Linked DNA regions of Homo sapiens. The protein of the gene in region 3 purifies or fractionates together with the protein of the main gene of each other region. This does not show direct contact. Each region holds a gene or a part of one and is shown on either strand. Other genes may lie near its edges.

The links.
Region 1: the proteins of ART3 (region 3) and DDX19B purify together in Homo sapiens (affinity purification with mass spectrometry; 2 studies listed by BioGRID and IntAct, with this or other methods). This does not show direct contact.
Region 2: the proteins of ART3 (region 3) and HSPA12A purify together in Homo sapiens (affinity purification with mass spectrometry, with the first as the bait; 2 studies listed by BioGRID). This does not show direct contact.
Region 4: the proteins of ART3 (region 3) and SLC60A2 purify together in Homo sapiens (affinity purification with mass spectrometry; one large-scale study listed by BioGRID and IntAct). This does not show direct contact.
Region 5: the proteins of ART3 (region 3) and VMP1 purify together in Homo sapiens (affinity purification with mass spectrometry; one large-scale study listed by BioGRID and IntAct). This does not show direct contact.
Region 6: the proteins of ART3 (region 3) and DYNC2LI1 purify together in Homo sapiens (affinity purification with mass spectrometry, with the first as the bait; one large-scale study listed by BioGRID). This does not show direct contact.
Region 7: the proteins of ART3 (region 3) and RAB39B purify together in Homo sapiens (affinity purification with mass spectrometry; 2 studies listed by BioGRID and IntAct, with this or other methods). This does not show direct contact.

Annotation. Positions count from the first base shown.
Region 1 is NC_000016.10:70,305,686-70,309,185, reverse strand, and holds part of DDX19B (ATP-dependent RNA helicase DDX19B), read right to left. Parts: intron 1-3,500. UniProt on the Homo sapiens protein: ATP-dependent RNA helicase involved in mRNA export from the nucleus.
Region 2 is NC_000010.11:116,670,692-116,673,629, forward strand, and holds the end of HSPA12A (heat shock 70 kDa protein 12A), read right to left. Parts: 3' UTR 501-2,938; downstream 1-500. UniProt on the Homo sapiens protein: Adapter protein for SORL1, but not SORT1. Delays SORL1 internalization and affects SORL1 subcellular localization.
Region 3 is NC_000004.12:76,091,709-76,095,208, reverse strand, and holds part of ART3 (ecto-ADP-ribosyltransferase 3 isoform a precursor), read right to left. Parts: intron 1-3,500.
Region 4 is NC_000006.12:111,276,339-111,280,505, reverse strand, and holds the end of SLC60A2 (sodium-dependent glucose transporter 1), read right to left. Parts: 3' UTR 501-4,167; downstream 1-500. UniProt on the Homo sapiens protein: May function as a sodium-dependent glucose transporter. Potential channels for urea in the inner medulla of kidney.
Region 5 is NC_000017.11:59,731,654-59,735,153, reverse strand, and holds part of VMP1 (vacuole membrane protein 1), read right to left. Parts: intron 1-3,500. UniProt on the Homo sapiens protein: Phospholipid scramblase involved in lipid homeostasis and membrane dynamics processes. Has phospholipid scramblase activity toward cholesterol and phosphatidylserine, as well as phosphatidylethanolamine and phosphatidylcholine.
Region 6 is NC_000002.12:43,780,539-43,784,038, reverse strand, and holds part of DYNC2LI1 (cytoplasmic dynein 2 light intermediate chain 1), read right to left. Parts: intron 520-3,500; coding exon 485-519; intron 1-484. UniProt on the Homo sapiens protein: Acts as one of several non-catalytic accessory components of the cytoplasmic dynein 2 complex (dynein-2 complex), a motor protein complex that drives the movement of cargos along microtubules within cilia and flagella in concert with the intraflagellar transport (IFT) system, facilitating the assembly of these organelles.
Region 7 is NC_000023.11:155,257,735-155,261,491, reverse strand, and holds the end of RAB39B (ras-related protein Rab-39B), read left to right. Parts: intron 1-262; coding exon 263-689; 3' UTR 690-3,257; downstream 3,258-3,757. UniProt on the Homo sapiens protein: The small GTPases Rab are key regulators of intracellular membrane trafficking, from the formation of transport vesicles to their fusion with membranes.

The DNA.
Region 1 (3,500 bases), on a different chromosome or scaffold from region 3:
GAAGTTTCTGGTCCCTTTCTGCTTTGGTGTTGGGAAAGAGGAAAAAGAAAGGGAACACATTAAAGAGATTAGAAAAAAGCAACTTAACAAAAAGGAAACCATTCAACTGGAGAAAGCCGACTGAAAAACAAACAAAAAAAAAAAGAAATCATTATAAAGCAGTAAAAATCCTTCACTAATTCTGAAGGATAAAGAATACACTAATGGGGGAGGGCAGTGGGGGACAGCATTAGGAAAAAGAGCTAATACATGTGGGGCTTAATACTTAGGTGATGGGTTGATAGGTGCAGCAAACCACCATGGTACATGTTTACCTATGTAACAAACATGCACATCCTGCACATGCACCCTAGAACTTTAAAAAAAAAAAAACAGCTGGGCACAGTGGCTCACACCTGTAATCCCAGCACTTTGGGAGGCTGAAATGGGAGGCTCCCTTGAGGCCAGGAGTTTGAGACAAGCCTGGGCAACATAGTGAGACTCCACCTCTATAAAGATTAAAAATAAAAATATTGACAGGGCATGGTGGCTTGTGACTTGAATCCCAGCACTTTTGGAGGCCGAGGAGGGAGGATCCTTGGAACTCATGGAGTTCGAGACAAGCCTGGGTAACATAGTGAGACCCCATCTCCTAAAAAATAAATAAATAGGCTGGGCATGGTGGCTCATTCCTGTAATCCCAGAGCTTTGGGAGGCTGAGGCAGGCTGATCACCTGAGGTCAGGAGTTCGAGACCAGCCTGACCAACATGGTAAAACCCTGTCTCTACTAAAAAAATATAAAAAAAATTAGCCAGGTGTGGTGGCGCAGGAGGCTGAGGCAGGAGAATCACTTGAACCTGGGAGTTGGAGGTTGCAGTGAGCCAAGATCACACCATTGCACTCCAGCTTGGGCAACAGAGTGAGACTCTGTCTTAAAAATAAATAAATAAATAGACCGGGTGTGGTGGCTCACGCCTGTAATCCCAGCACTTTGGGAGGCCGAGGCAGGTGGATCACCTGAGGTCAGGAGTTCGAGACCAGACTGGCCAACATGGTGAAAACCTGTCTCTACTAAAAATATAAAAACTAGCTGGGCATGGTGGTGGGTGCCTGTAATCCCAGCTACTCAGGAGGCTGAGGCAGGAGAATTACTTGAACCCAGGAGACAGAGGTTGCAGTGAGCCGACATGGTGCCACTGCACTCCAGCCTTGGCAGCAGAGTGAGACTCCGTCTCAAAATAAATAAATAAATAAAAATAAATACATAAATAAATAATAAATTTAAATAAATTTTAAAATAAAATAAATAAATATATTAGCTGGGCATGGTGGTATGTGCCCATAGTCCCAGCTACCAGGGAGGCTGAGGTGGGAGGATTGCTTGAGCCCAGGAGTTCCAGGTTACAGTGTGCTATGATCTTGCCACTGCATTCCAGCCTGGGTGACAGAATGAGACCCCATCTCTATTAAAAAAAATACACACATATATACACACACACACATATATACATACACACACACACACACACATATATATACATATGGCCAGATGTGATGGCTCACGCCTGTAATCCTAGTACTTTGGGAGGCCGAGATGGATGGATTGCCTGAGCTCAGGAGTTCGAGAGCACTGTGGGCAACATGATGAAACCCCATCTCTACTGAAATATGAAAAATTGGCTGGGCATGGTGGCACGTGCTTGTAATCCCACCTACTTAGGAAGCTGAGGCATGAGAATCGCTTAAACCCGGGAGGCAGAGGTTGCAGTGAGCCGAGATGGTGCCACTGCACTCCAGCCTGGGAGACAGTGCGAGACTCTTGTCTCCAAAAAATAAAAAATAAAAAAAGACATATTATTTCATAGACAATATTAATCTTAAAGATTAATGATGCAGCTGCTTTGGAAAACATCCTGGCACTTTCTCAAAAGTTAAATACAGAATTACTATATAATCCAGCAGTCCCACTTCTAGATATATACCCGAGTATTGAAACTATATGTCCACACAAAAACTTGTACATTAATCAAAAGCAGTATTATTCATAGTAGCTAAAAAGTAGAAATAATCCAAATGTCCAGAAATTGATAAGTGGATAAATAAAATGTGGTATATCCACACAATGGAATATTATTTGGCAACAATAAGGAATAAAGTACTGATACATGCTACAACTAATGAACCTTAGTTCATTATACTAAATAAAAGGAGCCAGTCACAAAGGATCACATACCGTATGTTCCCATTTATATGAAATGTTTAAAAGAGGCAAATCTAAAGAGACAGAAAGTAGATTAGTGATTGCCTAGAGCTGGGGAGTTTGTAGGGAAACAGGGAGTAACTGCTAATGTGTACAGAGTTTCCTTTTGGGGTGATGAAAATGTTCTAAAATTGACTGTGATATAAGCTACACACTTCTGAATACACCAACCATCAGTGAACTGTACACTTTAATCTCACCATAATGTCATAATAATAGGGTCTCAAGATTCTGTTTCATAAAATGCAGGAATTTGTTGTTGTAAGGTTAATAAAATGGCTAGTTTGGGCCTGCTAAAAACAGCAAGAGTTAATCATTTCATACCTGAGTTTTTATTATCACTGGATTCATTATTATGAGTTTCTGTTCTATCCAAAAGATAACTCTATGATGCAAACTCAAGCCAAAAAGAAAATGTCAAAGCTACCTACTCCTAACAAACCCTCTTAGGCACATTAATAGGTTAAAACAATGACAATTTAACCTGACCTGAATGGCCGGGTGCAGTGGCTCATGCCTATAATCCCAGCACTTTGGAAGGCCAAGGCAGGTGATAGCTTGAGCTCAGGAACTTGAGACTGCCCTGAGCAACATGGTGAAACCCTATGTCTACAAAACATACAAAAATTTGCCAGGTGTGGTGGTGCACACCTGTAGTCCCAGCTACTTGCAAGGCTGAGGTGGGAGGACTGCATGAGCCTGGGAGGTCAAGGGTGCAGTGAGCCATGTACACACCACTGCATTCCAGCCTGGGTGACAAAGTAAGACTCTATTTCAAAAACAACAACAACAACAAACAACAACAACAACAACAACAAAACTGACCTAACAAGAAGTTAGTTAAAATAGTCAAAACTCTCAGAACTAAAAAATAAAAAAAACAGGCCGGGTGCTGTGGGTCATGCCTGTAATCCCAGCACTTTGGGAGGCCGAGGCGGGCGGATCACGAGGTCAGAAGATCGAGACCATCCTGGCTAACACGGTGAAACCTCATCTCTACCAAAAAAATACAAAAAAATTAGCTGGGCATGGTGGTGGGCGCCTGTAGTCCCAGCTACTCGGGAAGCTGAGGCAGGAGAATGGCGTGAACCCAGGAGGTGGAGCTTGCAGTGAGCCGAGATTGCGCCACTGCACTCCAGCCTGGGCGACAGAGTGAGACTCTGTCTCAAAAAATAAATACATAAAAATTTAAAAAATAATAATTAAAAAAACAAAAAACCTCTCAGAACTACTTGAAACACATATTTATCTCTACGTTGA
Region 2 (2,938 bases), on a different chromosome or scaffold from region 3:
AACTGCAAATGAAGGCTGGTGGAGCCGACCACCATTTATACCTCTCTTTTATCACCCCATTTAGAACATACCTCGGGCCATCAGGAAGCTTTCAGAGCCAACTGTGGAGGGCGACTCAGGTGTAGGCTCTGGACACAGCCAGTTTCACGTGACGGCTGGGATGCCCAGGGGCAAGAGCCCAGCCAGGCCTTCTGCATGTTTTAATGACTTACACTGGGGTGCAGTGGCATTGGCAGTGGTCACTCTGCTTACCTGCCCTCCCTCTGGCTAGACCACTTTCTTCCAGAGAAAAGGGGCTCTGTGCCCATCGATGGGGCCTTGGTTCCCAGCAAACAAAGGGCCTAGTCTTGTTAGAATAACTTAAGAAAACTTACAGCACCTGGAAAAAACTGAAACTCTCTCTCCACCACCTGAGATGGGGTAGAGAGGGAGATCAGTACTGACGTGTCCATCATGCAGTTTGCAAACCCAGGATGGGGGGAAAAAAAATCTGGGCCACATGAGATTCAGAGTTTTGCTTTATTAGGCGTCTGTGAAGACAAGAGAGTTTGCAGACACAGTCCCGTCTGGTGGTGAACTGCTGCAAAGTTCTGTGAAGTTTGAATTTATCTTGTAGTGAATGAGACCCCAGTAGCTGATATTTTAGAATACTGGTCCATATTTCAAGCAGATGAGAGGTGTGGCATTATGGCCAACAACTTTTATATTAGCCATCCACTCAAGCCGTTTCCCAGCATACATATGCAGCTTAATCACAGCTATACATCTCTACAATGTGAAATTCGATCTTTGACTAATAATGCATTCTGACTCCTGTTTACATTGGTGCATGCGATTCTTTGCTACCCTGGCAATTAACCAGACCTGGACTCTAAAAGCTAAACTTGGTCTAAATAACATTCTAAGGGTAAGGCAACCTCTATAATCTGGACTCAGCCATCATTTTGCAAAAACAGTTGTATGGTTCCTCCTCTTTCCCCTCCTGTCTGTAACTTGTCTGTTACTCAGCATTTATTCATGCCTGCTGTGTACGGAAAGGGCAGTTACAAAGGAAAGCCTTGATGATTCTGCTTCCAAGAAACGTGAAGATCAGATAATATGCCAGGGACAATTGAGTAATGGGTCAAGACAACAGGCCTTGTAGGTATTTTCTAAGGTTAGAAAAATGTGTTCAAGTGTACTTATCCAGTGCTCTTATTCTAGAATATTCCAGTGGGGGTAGGGAAGGAGGGATGGATTTGGGGGTTTCATTTAAGGACTCTGACAACTGGGGCTGCAGCTCTGTGGCCAGAAGATAAAATTATCATCCTCTCCATCACCTATCTGCCAACACTGCAGATTTCTATCTGCTCATTTAAGAGAAACAGTACACAGGGAGATAGCATTAATGCAAGGCAGGAAAGGCTTTACATTAGCCCAAAAAAGAGGGGCTTGACCATGTTACTCACACTTACACTTAGCCCAGCAGAAAAGCTGGGCTTATGTACCACTTGGTTTCTTTCTTTGACCCTAGCATCCTGAAAACATCACACACAGTGGACCACGCTTTGCCCTCAGAGTGACTGCTCCGACCCGGAAGGAGAGGTCAACGACCCCTCAGGACACAAAGGGTTTCTTAGGTTGTTCTGCGCAGTCACATGGCTTCCAGAACCAGAACGTTCAGCTCTTAAAGTCTGCACAGAAGAACTGATAGAATCTGCTCCTTTCAATGGAATCTGTGACTGTTTGGGAAGGATGTGCATGGAGAAGGGTCTGATGAGGCTCCTGATCCAGGCGGTCCACGTGCGTTCAGTGTGTTTGGACCCTAGGCACCTCTGTCTATTGCTCGGTCTTGCGTACATAGTCCATAGCTTGGCATCAGCACAGATCGATGCTTAGTGAGCACAATTAAGAAACCAAACTATGGAAAATTAAGGACAGTAACAAAAGTATCATCAACAAAAATCAAGCATTTTCCTCTTTTTGAAACAAGAAAAGCGCATCGTAGAAACCAAGATTCTGTACAATATTCTAACATTATATGTACATAAAATTATATTACTCATAACTATATTGAAAAGTCTTATTTGTAGAATATGGCTGGCAACAAAGAAAGACCCATACCATTTAGCGTTTGAAGCAGGGCAGGTAGCAAGAGAACATTAGCAAAGACACCTTTGTGCCTGGATACACAATCCTGCTACTAAGTTATGTGACTAACCAGCACACTCTAAGTTCTGTGGTTTGTTCGTTGTTTCACATTCTAGTAGGGAATTCTGCAGCAGGCGATGCGAAAAAGAAGACATGGTCAAATGAAATGTGAAATGCTGTTTAAAATCTGCATATTGGCTATGATAATGGGTTTGTGAATCCAAGTTGCATTGGAAGTTCACTCATTCTCCATTCATTATGCATGCCTCCAGTGATTTAATGAATTTCAGCAGGTGGAAAAGACAGCTTTGAACAGATCAGATGGGCTGTGAGTCAGATTCTTGATTCTTTTTCCTCATTTGGCTCCTGAATGTTGCAGAAAACTGGTTTTGTACACTGGGGAAGGAGAGAGTGAAGACCCTCCAGTTGGTTCCTCAGTCAGCTCCGTTCTTGGTGTCGCTTTCTTGCAATTTTTTTCCTCCCCTGGCCCTTCCTGTGAGGGTTAAAAGGGCCATCTCCAAGCCAGGTGGAGCCCCAATCCCATTGACCAAGAGGGCAAGGTATGGGGTCACCTTCTCATGGAAGCCCTCTTCCTAAAGGAGCCCAAAGGGGACACCTGCAGAGGGCGGGCTGTGATCTGTGTGTGAACTTCAACAAAATCTCAGGTTAGTATTTCTCCAATTTCAGTTGAACCACGATGTGGTATACACTACAAATGCAGATTCTGGTGCCCCTCTCCAAGAGTCGGCCTCAGTTAAAAAGGGCTCAGATCCAGGAACCTGTTCTGAACACGCACCCAGGCAATTCT
Region 3 (3,500 bases):
GAGTCATTTTGTTAAGATTGCATTTCTCCTCCCTATTTAAACTCTGGATTTAATCTTCTGTTTAGCATTTTCAATAGCAGTAATCAAACTATTTTGAGTTTCTAAAGAAATAGCAGGGTTAAAAATGGATAAGAGAATTGGTCCAGAAATAAAAGAAGAGGCATAAATATATAAGGAATGAAAAAGGAAACCTAACAACAGATTCAGCAGATGTAAAAAGATATGAGAATATTATGAACAGCTTTATGCCTACTAATTTGAAATACAAAGGCAAATGGACAAATTCCCAGAAAAATTTAACTTACCAACCCTTAAGTAGTTTAAAATTTTTCCAGAAAGAATATACCAAGATAATTCAATTTTTATAGACAGAGTACCAGAGAGAAAGGAGTGGCACAAACAGAGAACTCCAGAGATCTGCAAAGGGTTTCCCTCAAGTATTCAGTGGAGTGCTGATCAGATTATATGTGTTAGAAAACTACCCAAGGCCAGAGAAAGAACCCACAAGGTCAAGAATAGTGTCTATTCCCATCAACCAGGCTGGAAAACCTTATAATTCACAGGCATTAGGTAGAGTATTGAGAAGGGTACAGCCTCAGCAGTGAGAAATAATGAGCCCTGGATTAAAGTGTCTCTGGTTCTGCCTAGAAAATCTGAAGAATAAGCCCTAAAACAATCAAACTGTTCTAAAGTAAATTAACTATGTACCAGAACAAAGCTCAAGAATATTTTTAGAAATATAAAATTACCATGCACACAACAAGGTAAAATTCACAGCATCTGGCACCCAATCAAAAACTACCAGCAAAGAAGCAGGAAAATACAATTCATCATGACAAGAGAACTCAATCTAATGAAACTAACCCAGAGCTGACACAAATGTTAGTATTATCAGAAAAGTAAATTAAAGTAGTCATTACAACTGTATTCCATGTGTCCAAAAAATAGTTAAAGGTGTTGTCTTACCTCCAGCTGCCACACAAAATACCCTGACTGGATGGCTTAAACAACAGATTTTTATTTCTCATAATTCCAGAGCTGGGAAATCCAAGATCAAGGTAATGGCAGGTTCAATTTCTGGTAAAGGCTTTCTTCTTGGCTTGCAGATAGCCACCTTCTCACTATATCCTCATTATGTCAGAGAAAGAACAAAGCTATGGTCTCCTTTCCTCTTCTTATAAGGACATTAGCCCCGTCATGGGTACTCCCAGCCCTCATGACCTAATCAAAACCTAATCTAAACCTAATTACTTCTTGAAGGCCCAACCTCCAAATACCATCACAGTGAGGATTAGGGCTTCAACATATGAATTTTGGGGGGGATACATTCAGTAGTGTATGTCATTACTACTAACAGGTGTTAAGTAGAGACGTGGAAAATATAAAAAGACCCAAATTGAATTTCTAGAGATAAAAATTCTGAGATGAAAAATACACCAGATAGAATTACTGACAAACTAGACACTGAAGAAAAAAGATTAGCAAACTTGACATACTGTGGTATGCAGAATAATACCCTTCTTAAAGAGGTCTACATCCTATCCCCAGAACCTGTGAATATGTTATTTTACATGGCAAAAGAGAACAATGGTTGAAGATGCAAATAATGTTGTTAATTAGCTGGCCTTCAGGTGGGGCAATTATCTTGGATTTTCCAGGTGAGCTCAATCTAATAACATAAATTCTTAAAAGTGGAAAAAACAAGAAGTAGAAGAGATGATCAGAGAGATGCGAGGTGCGGAGGACTCAACATGCTGTTTCTTTCTTTTTTGAGATGGGGTCTCAGGGTCTCCCTCTGTCACTTAGGCTGGAGTGCACAGTGGCGCAGTCGTGGCTCACTGCAACATCAACTCTTGGGCTCAAGCAATCCTCCCATCTCAGCCCATCACAGGCAGCTGGAACTACAGATGCATGCCACCATGCCTGGATACTTTTTTTATTTTATTTTTTGTAGAGACAGGGTCTCGCTATGTTGCCCAGGCTGGTCTCAAACTCCTGAACTCAAGTGATCCTCCTGCCTCAGCCTCCCAAAGTGCTGAGATTACAGGCATGAGCCACCACACCTGGCCATCAACATGCTGTTTCTGACTGAAGATGGATGAAGGAGGCCACAAACCAAGGAATGCAGGTAACCTCTGGAAGCTGGAAAAAGCAAGAAAACAGATTCTTGCCTAAGCTCCTGGGAAGGAATGCAGCCCTACCAACACCTTAATTTCAGCTCAGCAAGACTTATGTCAGGCTTCTGAAATACAGAATTTTATGATAATAAATCTAGATGTGTTGTTTTAAACCATTAAATTTGTGGTAATTTGTTATGGCAGCAATGAAGTACTGAAATATACAAAACAATAGAAAACATCTAAAAATGAAACAGAGAAAAATACTAATAACAAGAAACATTAGAGTTTCATTGAGCTGGGGACAACCTCAAGCAGTTTAATATACATATAAACAGAATCCCTAAAGGAAGAAGAGAGGGGTGAAAAAATATTTGCACAAACAGTAGTCACAACTTTCCAAATATGATGAAAACTATGAACCTACAAATCCATAAGTTCAATGAACTCCAAGCACAAGATACATGAAAAAAAAATGACACTAAGTTACATCATAATCAAATTGGTCCAAATAAGTATGATAAACACAAAGTCTTAAAAGCAGCCAGTGGGGAGCAGGGGAGCTAAATAAAGAGGAGCAGAAATGAGGAGCACAGCAGATTTTTTTGTCAGAAGCAATTTAAGTAAAACAACAGAGGAACAGTAAATTTGTAAACTACTAAAAGACAAAAAAAAGATCAATCTAGAATTCTATACCCAGTGAAAACAGCTTTCAAAACTGAAGGTGAAATAAACTTTTCATACATACAACACTTAAAGGTAAATCTGACGAAAGATGGAAAAGCCTTACACACTGAACACTATTTGGATACAGCTGACAGAAATTAAGACCTAAATAAATGGAGATGTTATGCTGTGTTCATGAGTTGGAAAAGTATATTTTTTAAAACTCTTCTCATATTGATCTATAAATGCAAGGCAAGCTTAATCAAAATCCAAGCAGAAATTGTAGAAATTGACAAGGTGATTCTAAAATTCATATGGAAGCATAAAGAACATATAATCACCAAAACAACTTTGCAAGAAAAGAATACAATGAACACTACCTGGTTTTGAGGTTTATTATATAGCTATAGTGATCAATATATGATACTGGAATAAAGATAAATCACCAGGCACAGTGGCTCACACCTATAATCCCAGCACTTTGGGAGGCTGAGGCAGGTGGATCACTTCAGGTCAGGAGTTCAAGGCCAGCCTGGCCAACATGGTGAAACCCTGTCTCTACTAAAAATACAAAAAATTAGCCAGGCGTGATGGCACATGCCTGTAGTCCCAGCTACTTGGGAGACTGAGGCAGGAGAATTGCTTGAACCCAGGAAGCAGAGGTTGCAGTGAGCCAAAATTGTGCCACTGTACTCCAGCCTGGGTGACAGAGCGAGA
Region 4 (4,167 bases), on a different chromosome or scaffold from region 3:
CTGCAGCAACACGGATGAAACTGAAGGACACTATGTTAAGGGAGTTATTTCACTTAACAGAAAGACAAATATTCCATGTTCTCACTTAGATGTGGGAGCTAAAAAATTAATCTCATGGAGGTAGTGAGTAGAATAATAATTACCAGAGGCTGGGAAGGGTAGGGGACAGAGCAGAGGGCAGCAGGTTGGTTAGCAAATACAAAAATACAGTTAGACAGAAGGAATAAGTTCTAGTGTTTGATAGCACAGTAGAGTGACTACAGTTAACACTAGTTTATTGTATATTTCAAAATAGCTACAGGAGAAGATGTGAAATGTTCCCAACACAAAGAAATGATAAACATTTGAGGTGATGGATATCCCAACTACCCTGATTTGCTCATTACACACTGTATGCATGTATCGAATTATCACAGGGAACCCATAATTATGCATAGCTATTATGTATCAATTCAAAAATCAGTGAAACAACTGAAACATGAATCTTAAACCAACATCACTATTGTTATCAATATTTTATTCAAACAAGTTTTTATATGGTACAAAGCTATGTAAACAGTGAGTAGTCTATTTTTTTTGTTTGAGATGGAGTCTCACTCATGCAGTGGTGTGATCATGGCTCACTGCAGTGTTGAACTCCTCGGCTCAAGGTATCCTCCCGCCTTGGCCTCCCAAAGCACTGAGATTACAGGTGTGAGCCACCACGCCCAGCCTAGGTGAGTAGTCTTAAATTCAGATGTAATAAACCTGCAAGATCATTCCTACTCTGTTAAGCCCCCCAAATCAAAATTGACTGGTGAAAACCTGCCTAGAAGGGCAACCTCCAAAAGATCTGAGCTTTTGTTTTAGGAAGGACTTCAAATAACAGCAATATTTCCTGCACTGGACCAAGCAGCAGTGGAGTGAATAGAAAACATGAGATCTCTTCCTCTCCAGTTTTCCTTTAAGAAAGTGCACAGGCTAGGCGCGGTGGCTCATGCCTGTAATCTCAGCACTTTGGGAGGCCGAGGTGGGCGGATCACGAGGTCAAGAGATCAAGACCATCCTGGCTAACGTGGTGAAACCCCGTCTCTACTAGAAATACAAAAAATTAGCTGGGCACAGTGGTGGGCGCCTGTAGTCCCAGCTACTCAGGAGAATGGCGTGAACCCGGGAGGTGAAGTTTGCAGTGAGCTGAGATAGCGCCACTGCACTCCAGCCTGGGCAATAGAGCGAGACTCTGTCTCAAAAAAAAAAAAAAGAAAGAAAGAAAGTGCACAGAATTTCAAGGATCTACAAAAGTGGCATAACTTAATCAATCTGTAAGTAAGCCTAAGAAAAAACCACGGTCATTAGTAGAGGATCCAGTTTTGTGCACTGATCAAAGCAGTGGTTCTCAATCTTGGCTGCACATTACAATTACGGGGGATTGGGGAGGAGGAGTTACTTTTTTAAATATCCATACTCAGGCTCCACTCCAGACCAAATTGGTATTTAAGTTAAAATGCTGGGCATCAGTCATTTTTAAACACTGCCAGGTGATTCTAACAGCAGCCAGGTTTGAAAACCACTGGAGCAAAGGTTAATCACTTGGGCAGAGGACAAGAACACATTTTGCAATCACGTTTTTCCCTTGGGTCCTCTTTCCTTCTGGAGCTTATGAATTCTGGAGGGTGTAGAAGCAAAATGTCACTTTCCCTTGCTTCAGTAAGACTAAGAACTTCCTATATCATTCTATTAGTCTGTTTTCATGCTGTTGATAAAGACAGACCTGAGATTAGGTAATTTACAAAAGAGGTTTATTGGACTTACAGTTCCACATGGCTGGGGAGGCTTCACAATCATGGCGGAAGGCAAGGAGCAGCAAATCACATCTTATATAGATGGCAGCAGGCAAAATGAGGGCTTGTGCAGGAAAACTCCCTCTTATAATAACCAAAAGATCTCGTGAGACTTCCTCACTATCACAAGAACAGCACGGGAAAGACTTGCCCCCATGATTTAGTTACCTCCCACCAGGTCCCTCCAACAACACATGGGAATTCAAGATGAGATTTGGGTGGGGACACAGCCAAACTATATCAATCACCATCAGAAAAGAAAGACGTTGCACCCTGAGACAAAACAAAAATGATAGGGTCATCTAACTGTTGATGATCTAAAAAACAATAAAACCTTGAATGTTTCCCATAAACCTGGACTCCCTAAGAAATTTTATCCTTGGTTTTTCCTGTACTACATCTGAAGATTTGCCATAACCTTTATGAATACAATAATTACATGAGGCAGTTACTGTTTTTCACCGTGAACAGTCTAATGCAAACTCAGAAACCTTGGCAGTTTTTAATTTTTTCCTTCAAATACTTACGTTTTTTATTAGGCAAGCCAGTCATTCTCTTGCTCTCTTTGCAGGTAAACTTTTCCTTTTCTAAATGCTTCTGTCTCTGAGTATTTCTTCAACAAGGGTAAAGATTCATAGAGTGCTTGGACACAGAACTGGATACTCTGCTCCTGGGGGCAGAGTTCACTGCAAGTGATAAGGGAAAGAGCTGAGAAATGAGAACCTGCTCTGTCAGCCCAAGGGTCTTTGGAGCTGTAATCCAAGATCTAGTTTGACCATAAATATATTCTCTTGGCTGGACTGAATAAATCTCAAAAGTTGGTGTCAGATTCCTTTGTTGTAGGCTTCCTAAGCCTTCTTGCCTATATTCACCTCAACTACACTGTGCCGAGTAATTTCTACAAAATTCTAAATCAAAAATTACCCCAAAGACATAGACAAGTACTAGAAATGAACAAACAAAAACACACACCAAGGAACCAAGAGTTTAGCTACTTTCCTTTTCTAAAACTGGGTAAAACCTATTACAATAAGAGTTACTGGCTCTTCCGCTGATAGAAATTTTGTCATGGCAAATTTTACTTAAAATAGAAAAACATAAGCTTGGTGAAGGCAAGGATCTCATCTGCCTTCTCCTATTATATTCCCAGGGCCCTGGTTACTGAACATGGTAAATGCTCAGTAAATATCTGTTAGATAACTGAAATGCATGAATTTGGAAAACTTTCTGGTCCGCACAGATGAGAACTGTAATAATATCTCTTGCAAACTGGGACTCCTCTTAGAGCTCACTCAAGTAGAAATCTTACCCTCTTAGGAGAAAGCTTTCTTTCTTGGTAAAAATCAAACAATCCACAAACCTTGTCTAACACGCTCTTCCAAAAAAGTCTGCAATTTGGTGTGATTTTGTTTTTCCAGTTCTGATGCAGATGAACCAGGCCATCCATCCCAGGACCTGCCAATTTTCATCCCATTCAGGTATCGATTACCAATATTTATGAAGCCTAGCACTTCTCTGGTACAGAGCAGACAGTGGACATTCCCTTTTGATGATAACAGCTCCTGCATGCAGAGTGGTGGGAGTAGGAGGGTAGAAGTAGCCACTTTCTGGATGGGAGCAATGTCATCAACCCAAAGGGAACCCCTTCATAGGCTAACCAGCAACTCCTGAGGCAAGGCCCAATAAGGGCAATGGCATCTACTCAAGTCAAACAGGTTTCCTCCGGAATCTGGACCAGAGATACACAGAGGAACTCCTGAGGCAAGGCCCAATAAGGGCAATGGCATCTATTCAAGTCAAACAGGTTTCCTCTGGAATCTGGACCAGAGATATATAGAAGATGGGCCAGGAATGCAGAAAACGAGTGGTCCCAAGGAGGGGCAGAACTGCTGTGAGAGAGGCAGAGAGCAGCCCATTTATCGTTCTCAGACCACACACCTTCTGGTTCCAAGGTGGTTCAGAGGGATCTCTGTAAACGAATGAGCACAAAACACAGAACCATTCATTTGGCAGAAAACTGAGATCAAAGCTGTACCTGCTACTGCAAGGACAAAAAAGAAAGTTCATTAATACTTAGTCTACAGAGCCTCACATGCAGTAAGCCCTCAAGCACTTGTGCAATGACTGAACAAAAATTGCAAGCAGAGATAACAAAACTTTGAGGTAGTTGCCCAACATAACTTTTCTTTGAGTTCACTTATTCAGTACATGGGTGCTACTGATATGATCATAATGCGCCTAAAGTCTGAGATAATACCTTAAAAGTATGTGTTTATTCTCTTCCTAAAGCTACTCTCTTCTGGAAAAACTTGATTAAGAAAAAAATCTAAGACAAAAAACACAAACA
Region 5 (3,500 bases), on a different chromosome or scaffold from region 3:
GATCACTTGAGGTCAGTAGTTCAAGACCAGCCTGGCCAACATGGTGGAACTCCGTCTCTACTAATAATACAAAAATTAGCTGGGCATGGTGGTACACGCCTGTAATCCCAGCTACTCGGGAGGCTGAAGCACAAGAATCCCTTGAACCTGGGAGGCAGAGGTTGCAGTGAACTGAGATTGTGCCACTGAAGACCAGCCTGGATAACAGAATGAAAGAGACTCTGTCTCAAAAAAAAAAAAAAAAAAAAAAAGGCAACCAGTCCCAACTCAGCATAGAAAGAAGATGAATGACAGTAGTTCCCCCTTATCTACAGTTTCAGTAACACATGGTCAACTATGGTCTGAAAATAATAAATGGAAAATTCTGAAAATAAGCAATTCATAAGTTTTATTGTTTTAAATTTATTTTTATTTTTTTAAGAGACAGGGTCTCCATTCCGTTGCCCAAGCTGGAATGCAGTGGCATAATCACAGCTCACTTTAAACTCCAACTCTTGGGGTCAAGTGATCCTCCCACCTCAGCCTCCCAAGCAGCTAGGACTACAGGTGTGTACCACCGCACCCAACTAATATTTTTGGTTTTTGTGGAGACACAGTCTCACTACGTTGCCTGGGCTCATCTGAAACTCCTGACCTCAAGTGATCAGCTCGCCTTGGCCTCCCAAAGTGCTGGAATTACAGGTGTGAGCTACTGCAGCCAAGCCCCTAAGTTTTATATTGTATGCTGTTCTGAGTAGTATAATAAAATCTTGCCAGTCCTGCTCCATCCAGCCTAAGACCTGATTCATCCCTTTGTTTAGTACATCCGCGTTGTATATGTTACCCCATTACTATATACAGAACAACACAGTGTTTTTTCCTATATCCACTAGGGGTCATGGAATGTATCCCTCATGGATAAGGGGGCTACTATATTATAGTTGCCATTTCTTAATCAGTGTTACCTAGAGAACAACTGAGGCAAAACCAACTCCCTGCCTTGATAAACATCAGAATCTTTTGTAGAGGATGTCCTAAAGAAATGGTACTGAAAATTCCAGCAGTTGAATTTGGGATAGAGCTATAGATTTTGGGAAAATTACTGAAATAAGTCTAAATTGGTCCACCTTCTATGAAGGGCATTCTATCAACCTAGGATCATATTACAGAACAAAGTGGTTTAGATCGCAAAAATGGTGAGGCAAACTAGTTGGTTCCAATCCTGGCTCTGCCTTCTATTAGTCACGTGATCTTGGGCAAGTTAGTTAATACTTTTGTGACTCAGTTTTCTCTTCTGTAAAATGGGGATCACAATAGTACATACTTTTCAGGGTCATTTTAAGGATTAAATGAGCTCATATATGTAAAGTTCTCAGAAGAGTTTAACACTTAGTAAGTGCCCAATTAAGTTTAGCTATTAATTGTCACCATCTATTGAAATTACAAAATGCTTTTGTTTTTGTTTTTTTTGAGACAGGGTCTCATTCTGTTGCCCAGGCTGGGGTGCAGTGGTAGCATGATTTTGGCTCACTGCAACCTCCACCTCCCTGGTTAAAGCGGTTCTCCTGCCTGAGCTTCCCGAGTAGCTGGGATCACAGGCATCTGCCACCACGCCCGGCTAGTTTTTTTTTGTATTTTTAGTAGAGATGAGGTTTCATCATGTTGGCCAGGCTGGTTTCAAACTCCTGACCTCAAGTGATCCACGCACCTCCGCCTCCCAAAGTGCTGGGATTACAGATGTGAGCCACCACGCCCAGCACAAAATGCATATACACTGTAAACCGGTAATTCCATTTCTAGGAATGATTAGGTATAAGGTGAAATGACTTGCACAACTTTATTGACCACAGCATTATTTGTACTAGCAAAAAATAATCAATAACTTATATATTACCAATAGAGGACAGAAGAGTGATTAAAGTACAGCACACTCGTACAATGGAAAGAAAAACTAAGCAGCCATAATAAAGAATAAATTTTTTTTTTTGGGGGACAGGGTCTTGCTCTGTCACCCAGGCTGGAGTGCAGTGGTGTGATCGCAGCTCACTGCAGCCTTGTGGGCTAAATCGATACTCTCACCTCAGTCTTTCCAGTAGCTAGCTAGAACTTGAGTAGCTAGCTAGAACTACAGGCGCATACGATCACATCCAGCAAATTTTTAAAATCTTTTGCAGAGATGAGGTTTCCCTGTGTTGTCCTGGCTGGTCTCAAACTCCTGGGCTCAAGAGATCCTTCCGCCTTGGCCTCCCAAAGTGTTGGGATTACAGGCGTGAATCACCACGCCCAGCCTAAGAATCAGTTTTTCATGTACAGTTATAGCATAATCTCTAAAATATTAAAAAACACCTGGTACAGAAGAGTAAGTTTGACATGCTAATGTTAATTTTAAATTCCAATGGGGTGAGCAGAAGAGGAAGAATATACAAATGTATGTGCTCTCTAAAAGGAAAGAAAAAAATAGCACACAAAAGCTCCTAATGGGAAGACACTATGATGTATGCAATGCCCATCTCTGAATCCTGAAACTCTTGGTGAAATTGCCAAGTTTACTGACAACCAAAGTAACCCAAAAGTCAGATCAGTGCTGCAAAATGTCCTCTGCAAGGCAATATGGTGATTAACAAACAAATGAGGCCGGGCGCGGTGGCTCATGCCTGTAATCCCAGCACTTTGGGAGGCCAAGGTGGGTGGATCACCCGAGGTCAGGAGTTCAAGACCACCCTGGCCAACATGGTGAAATCCCATCTCTACTAAAAATACAAAAATTGGCTGGGCGTGGTGGCGCATGCCTTTAATTCCAGCTACTCGGGAGGCTGAGGCAGAATTGCTTGAACCTGGGAGGCGGAGGTTGCAGTGAGCCAAGATCGCACCATTGCACTCCAGCCTGGTGACAGAGTGAGATTCCGTCTCAAAAAGCAAACAAACAAACAAACAAATGAAAACTACTATTTCAGATTCCTTGCACTTCCTCTAAAAGTAGAGGATTGCTGTGAAAATATTACCACACTAGAGTATTATTTGCCATGTGTTTGAGATGTCAAACAATTCAAAAGCTAAAAAAAAAGTATGATTACAACAAAAGTAAAACTTTTTTTTCATTTTCCTTTAAATGCATGAAGGAAAGTTTCTACTTAAATCATCCATATTAATAAAAGTCATCATTTTCAGGGTAACTGTATAAACAGGAGTCAAATACACTGAAATTTACCACAAATTCCAATTTGGTTAAAATATGAGTTTATTCATCTCAAACGATAATTTTAAAATAAATTTTTAAATAATATTCACATTCTAACTTTTTTGATAACTGTATATTTAAGAACAGTGTAGTAAGTTTATAATCTACTTCTAGAATTACAAAATAGCACAATAAAATTGAGCACTGAGCAAAGCCAAATAAACACTGACCATACTATAAGATTAACAAGTAATAATCTTGTACTTGGAACACTGTTTATGTGATTGTGGCCAGGCTCCTTCTGCCATCACTGTGAAATATCACCTTACAGGCCCTGACTGAC
Region 6 (3,500 bases), on a different chromosome or scaffold from region 3:
ATCTACCAATCATACTGCTAAATCTTAATCTGATGGCCTGCTTCTACAGTATACGTTAGGAAATATATAAAATAAATGATAAAATATCCAGTTTGAGGACCAACACTGTGCTTCAAAAATGTACCCCTGAGCAACTAAAGCTTACAATGAATGTTCAAATAATTGTAGATTAGGTAGAACAAAAATAATTTAAATATCAGAGTAGCATAGCCAAAAAGAAGGTAAATACTATTGTAGGTTGGGTAATTATGGTAACATTTCTCCCTCAAATAGGGAAATCCAGTATTAGTCTCATATAATTTTTGGCTTATTGTTAGTTTTATATTTAAAGGCGCTCTTAAAGGTTATACTAAGGATTTGCTAAGAATTAAATATTTTGTTTGGGTCTCAAAATCGTTCCCCTTCCTTATGTCTTTTAGAGCTAACTTGCCCTATACAACTAGAATAAGCATAAATATAGTTTAAAGGTTAACATAACACTTACCTGTCAAGACACCTTAGAATAATAGTAGTCTTTCCCTGGAAATTAAAAAAGAAGGAACACTGCGTTAATGTCACTCATATGTAAAAATTGTATTATTGTTCGTAATTGTGGCCCAAAATAGATTTTTAATCAATTGAATGATAAATTACCTGGAAACTAAAAACTAGAAACTTTCGGAATTGTTCTAAAGTTTGATAAGTGGAAAAAGTTAACTGTCAACTTTCCATCACAGTGTAACTACACTGCTATTATTATAATTATAAAGTCCCACAGATGACAAATACTAGCAAATCATACCTCACTTAAGTGGTCAACTTGGCAGCTGTCTTAAATTTTTTCTCTACTCATCAATGTTAATTACTGGTTAAGCCGATGCTTAGTGTCTTTTAAAATGTTTTAATTCCAATTGTTGAAGTGGAAATAAAGAAAAAGGTAACATACAAATAAAGGACACATTGTAAATATGTTCAAAGTAAGCAATTCAGATACTGCATTAGAGTAATTTGTTTTAAGTCCAGAGGATGTACTTATTCCAAGTTTCTGTTTATTTTTATTTTATTTTATTTTATTTTTGAGACAGAGTCTCACTCTGTTGCCAAGGCTGGAGTGCAGTGGCATGATCTTGGCTCACTGCAACCTCTGCCTCCTGGGCTCAAGTGATTCTCGTGCCTCACCCTCTCAAGTAGCTGGGATTACAGGTGCACACCACCATGCCTGGGTAATTTTTGTATTTTTAGTAGAAACAAGGTTTTGCCATGTTGGCTAGGCTGGTCTTGAACTCCTGGCCTCATCTAATCTGCCCACCTCAGCCTCTCAAAGTGCTGGGATTACAGGTGTGAGCCACCATGCCCAACCCCAAGTTTCTTTTTAGGAGTAAGGAAATACAAGTTCTGGCCTAATTCCTACCACTAGTCAGGCAACTTAACTTCACAGCTTAGCCAGGGATTAGCTCAGTGGTTTATATCATTTTTAAAAAATAGTAAAATCCTTTTTTTTTTTTTTTTTTTAAAGAAAAGACCCCTTGCAAGGAAACAGATAAAAGAGAAACAGCAGGACAAGCTCCACTGGAGGAAACCTTCAGGCTCTAAAGAAAATAATTTGGAAAACTCTGGATTGCCAAAAACACAGAACACTTATTATATGTGTTTTTGTTTTTACTAAAAAAACCTATAGTTTTTGACAAAAAAGATAATTACTCCAGATTATATCTGGAATACGATCAAATTGAGTAAATTTTTTGTAATGAGATATATTAAAAAATAACTGGAATTGTACAATATAAAAATGTATATTATTGAAGGATGTTTATTGGCCAGTGTTACATCAAACTGAAAAACTAAAAACAACCTACATGTCCCCTACTGGCTAAATTAATTATGGTAAACCATATAATAGAATAATATACAGCTATTATGAATGACAATGTAGAAATATACTTACTGACATAGTAAAACATTCATAATAGATCAGCATGTCTCTGTTTTCAATTAAAAAATACTTTTCCTGCTTCCTTGAAGTACACACACACACACACACACACACATAGACAGAAACAAACACACAAATGTAGGGGGACATCACTATGTTAATAATGATTATTTCTAGCTGAAGGATTTGAAGGTAATTAAAGTTTTTAAGAAAATCAGGATTTTCTGCCAGGCATGGTGGCTCACGCCTGTAATCCCAGCACTTTGGGAGGCCGAGGCGGGTGGATCACGAGGTCAGGATATCAAGACCATCCTGGCTAACATGGCGAAACCCCAACTCTACTAAAAATACAAAAAAATTACCAGGCGTGGTCGTGGGCACCTGCAGTCCCAGCAACTTGGGAGGCTGAGGCAGGAGAATGGTGTGAACCCAGGAGGCAGAGGCTGCAGTGAGCCGAGATCACACCACTGCACTCGAACCTAGGCGACAGAGCGAGACTCTGTCTCAAAAAAAAAAAAAGAAAAAGAAAATCAGGATTTTCTAATTTTCCTACAATGAACTTGTATCATATGTAGTATGCTGTAAAAGTTCTAAATTAATAAGGGCTACATTACCCAAAAAGTAATGTACTCTGCAAGAAAGTAGAATAAGAATTGGAAGGAATTTTAAATAATATCTAGCCAATTTCCTCAAATTTTCATGGTACACTAGTATTCATTGATTTAAATCACTCCCCCTCGCCTTTTTTGTTTTTTTTTTTGAGACAGAGTCTCCCTCTGTTGCATAGGCTGGAGTGCAGTGGCACCATCTTGGCTCATGAAACCTCTGCCTCTGGGTTCAAGTGATTCTTAGGCCTCAGCCTCCGGAGTAGCTGGGATTACCAGTATGCACCACCACGTGCAGGTAACTTTTTGTATTTTTTAGTTGAGATGGGGTTTCACTATGTTGGTCAGGCTGGTCTTGAACTCCTGGCCTCAAGTGATCTTCCCACCTCAGCCTTCCAAAGTGCTGGGATTACAGTCTTGAGCCACCACGCCTGGCCTTAAATCACTTTTATTATTATTTCATATAAATGTATAGCACTATATGGTAACAATTCCAAATTAACATAAACTAATCTGGGAACTGAAATCAAGTTTTAGATTATCATTAAAATTACAATCCAAAATTTAAAAATTCATTAGTACACTCTGGTCCCCTGAGCATGTGGCTGTAGTCTTGTGGGTTTCCTAATTCAAGAAACATTGACCTAGTACAAGTTCATTTAGAGACCATCAAAATGAATCCCATCTTCCCTCCCATTGCCTCAATCGCCCCAGATGTCCAGCCCTCTCCTCTGACCCATTATCCCTGGAACTCTGAATTTCCTAACTCTGTAAACATCCCTTAATCTGGCCCAATAATCCCCTTCTGTCTTCCCTTCCTCTAAAATCCTTCCACTCTATGACTTCAGCTCCATGACTGGCAAACTCCCCAATATCTCAGCCTTTTCAGAATATTCTCTCCACATGTTGGCCTTAACTAAAATATGACTTACCCTGAACCCCTTCCTCTGCAGCCTTGTTAAACGAAGCTATTTATTCTCACT
Region 7 (3,757 bases), on a different chromosome or scaffold from region 3:
GCTGAATCCATGGAAAATGCCTAAAAGTTCATGAACATTCGTTTCTAGAAGATGCCCATCTCAAAGTTTGGCCCAATTGGAAACTCACATATTAGTAGTAGTATGGAATGCCATTTGTATTCCTTTGTTTTTTTAAAAAAAAAGAAAATCATTTTTATTAAAGGACTGTGTCACTAACCAGGAACACTTGAATATACTGAGTTCATTGACATGCAGAAGTTTGGGCACAGCCTTTACTCTTTACTTCTTTCTTGTGTTTTAGATCCATCACTCGCGCCTACTACAGGAACTCAGTAGGTGGTCTTCTCTTATTTGACATTACCAACCGCAGGTCCTTCCAGAATGTCCATGAGTGGTTAGAAGAGACCAAAGTACACGTTCAGCCCTACCAAATTGTATTTGTTCTGGTGGGTCACAAGTGTGACCTGGATACACAGAGGCAAGTGACTCGCCACGAGGCCGAGAAACTGGCTGCTGCATACGGCATGAAGTACATTGAAACGTCAGCCCGAGATGCCATTAATGTGGAGAAAGCCTTCACAGACCTGACAAGAGACATATATGAGCTGGTTAAAAGGGGGGAGATTACAATCCAGGAGGGCTGGGAAGGGGTGAAGAGTGGATTTGTACCAAATGTGGTTCACTCTTCAGAAGAGGTTGTCAAATCAGAGAGGAGATGTTTGTGCTAGTCAGTTCTTTTATTTCCAAAACATGCTCTCCTACTTGAACTGAAAAGTAAGAGAAATAAATAGAATCTTTGTGTAACTGATGAGAACTCAACCTCCATTTGGATACCAAGTGAGCCTCCCTCTCAGGGGGACTCTGACAGACTCGTGTGCGGGTGGATGGGGGTGCCTGAGTGCTGTGACCAAGGGACTGAATTGCTGACATGGGCCAGGCCAGGCACTGTTTTGTGGCCCATGCTAGGCAGTGGCTGCTCCATGAGCCCTTTGTGGACCACATGTTAAAGGCCTGGGGTTTAGGAAGCTAAGTCCCAGGAAAACATACCTACAGACAGGACAACTGTTCCTTGGTATTTGAGCTCACTTATAGGCCATGAACATAAAGAAATACATAAAGGGGAAAAAAGTTTCACAATGGGGACAATTAGCATAACTAAACAAAGATTATGAGCTCTACTTATTCCGTGAGAATACCCTGCACCAAAGGTGTTTGCTGGGTTTGGTTAAAAGGTACCAATTAGCTTTTAACAGCTTTCTGTAAAATGAGGAACACAGACCAAAAGGTCTGGTGTTCAAGTAAAAATGATGTGACTATGGAAAGGAAGGCAATCGACACAGTTATTAGCACATTTCAGAAAATGAACACCCTTGTGATAGAATTACCAGCTGTATGAAACAAATTGTCCCATGCAAATTACCCTATAACTAGGAAAGAGACACTATAACCCAAATGCCATACCCCCTTTTTCCTTTGACCATGCCTGGGGTTTCAATGCCTTGGCACCTGCAATCTGGAAGTAAACAGTCTGCTTGCTTCTTCAGGCACGTGACAGTGACAACACAGTGACTGCCTCTGAAAAGAGCCCTGAGGCAAACACTCTCTCCTGCTGAACAGGAGGCACTGTAACCCTTACAAACAGCTTACAGTTACTTGGGCTACTTATTTGATCATCATAACAGGCCTACGAGGTTTTTGCCCCATTTTACAGAATAGTAAACTAAGAGCCATGAAAATCACTTGGCCAGGGTCAAGGACTCGTGACTCCTAGCTCTTTTCACTGCATCATACTGCTGTCAGATGAATAAATGATTATGAATTTGTTTACTTGGGAAGAGATATGACTATAAATAAATGTTCTCTACATGTTAGGATATGTTTTCCTTATTGATTACAACTCAGCTATAATCCTGAGGGAACATGGGAAGGAATCAAAGGTAAAGCCCATTCAGGCATTATTGACAAGAGGGCTTTAAACAAGTGAATAATTGCACAACTAAAAAGACATTAGAACTGTGTGGGCTATAAGTGTTCTTATCACTGAGACACAGTGGATTTTTATTGAAAGGAACCACGTACAGCAATGCGGAGTGGGATAGGGATAAAATACCCACCCCAAAATGACCTTGGCCACCTGTCTGCCATATACGTACACTGAGTTCCTGTCTACCCAAGAGAGTCAGCCCTTAATTCTCAGGTGAACAAACAGCTAACTGCATCAGCAAATTGGAATGGCTGGCTTGAAGTTTCCATTATTTTCTTGAAGAGAGGTGATGCTTTAAATTACTTTTTGGATTGTAGCCAGTTCAGCTAGGCAAAAGCCATACTTTTCACAATTAAAAAAAAAAACTATTCTGACTAGAGTCAGGTTTCTCATATCCATTGTGATAGGAAGGCCTAAGAATGGCAAATCGCTTTGAGATATAATATTGAACTTCAGTATGAATGTGACCGAATCTGAAACTTTGGGAATTTGCTTTAGCCAGAATAAAGAAACCAAATCATGAAAATTATGGAAGACTATTCTGCCACCTGTGCCCCAAGTTGGATGAGCAAACCACTTTGGATCAGTTCACAGCATTAACTACAAGTGAACTGATCATCTTCTCTATATTCATTTCACAAGAGCTGGCTTAGGTGGGGTAATTAAATTGCCACCTTCGTGGTTGTAAAAGACAAACAAAACATGGCAAATTTCATTAACACAAAATTTCATCAACTGCTATACTGAATTATGTTTAGAAGATTCTGAAAGCAAGATTATCCAGTGGGTAAATGAGAGTCGACTGGATTCTGTCAGTTCAAAAAAGGAAAGAAACAAAACTTCCCTACAATTTTCTTCACTAAAATTTATTATATGTACAGTATTCCCACTCCTGGCATTTTCTGGCAGGTTTAAAAATATTCAGCATAAATCCAGCAGAGGTGGCTGAGCTTAATTGCTTAAATAAGTTCTAGAAAATTTAAAAATCATTTTAGTAGAATTCAGTACCATTGTCACTGCAATAAGTGGGTTTTAGAAAATAAGTGTGAAAAGAATCAGGTGTTAATATAATACTAAGGATAAAGCTTTAGAAGCTATTTTACTACATAGGTAAAGAAAAGATAAACTAACTTGTAACAAAGACCACAACTGCATGTTGGATTAGATTGTCTCATATTTCAGAATAAAATGTACTGTATACTTTTCCTCACTTTGTTGTGCACTGTAATGAAATGTGAAAAATGCTTTATTTAGCTGTATGTGAATGAAAATATGCTTGTATTTAGTAAAATGATTGATTATGTGACTGTGAGATTCCAAGTGTGTGTTATAGCTATTTCCAGAATCTGTTACTACAGCGTAGCAACTACTACCAAGGATATCAATAAGATGTGACATATACCATACACAATCGTATTCACCATTACCTTAAAGCCAGAAAGAGAATATAATTTTTGAAAGTTATCTGACCATCATATCAAAAGTCCCTGGGACCTCAATACTTCCTGGTGAGCATATGCCACTTTGAGAAAAGTTGGTTCTGTCAAGCCTAAATCTTCATCATGATGATTTTTAATCAAGAGTCTTAATTCTGTTGCCAAGTAGTTGATTACAACTATTATGTTCCCTGGAAAGTCTTCTTTTTTCCAGGCTAAGTTGCCTCAGCTTTTTCAAATCCTACTACGGCATGCTTTTTATGCCAGGATCACTTACAGTGTGGCACCAACATAAGAACACAATAGTTCAGCACATTTCCCAGGATTGATAGTACACATGAGGGTGGGGGGAGGGTTAAAAAAAAAAGGAAAGATA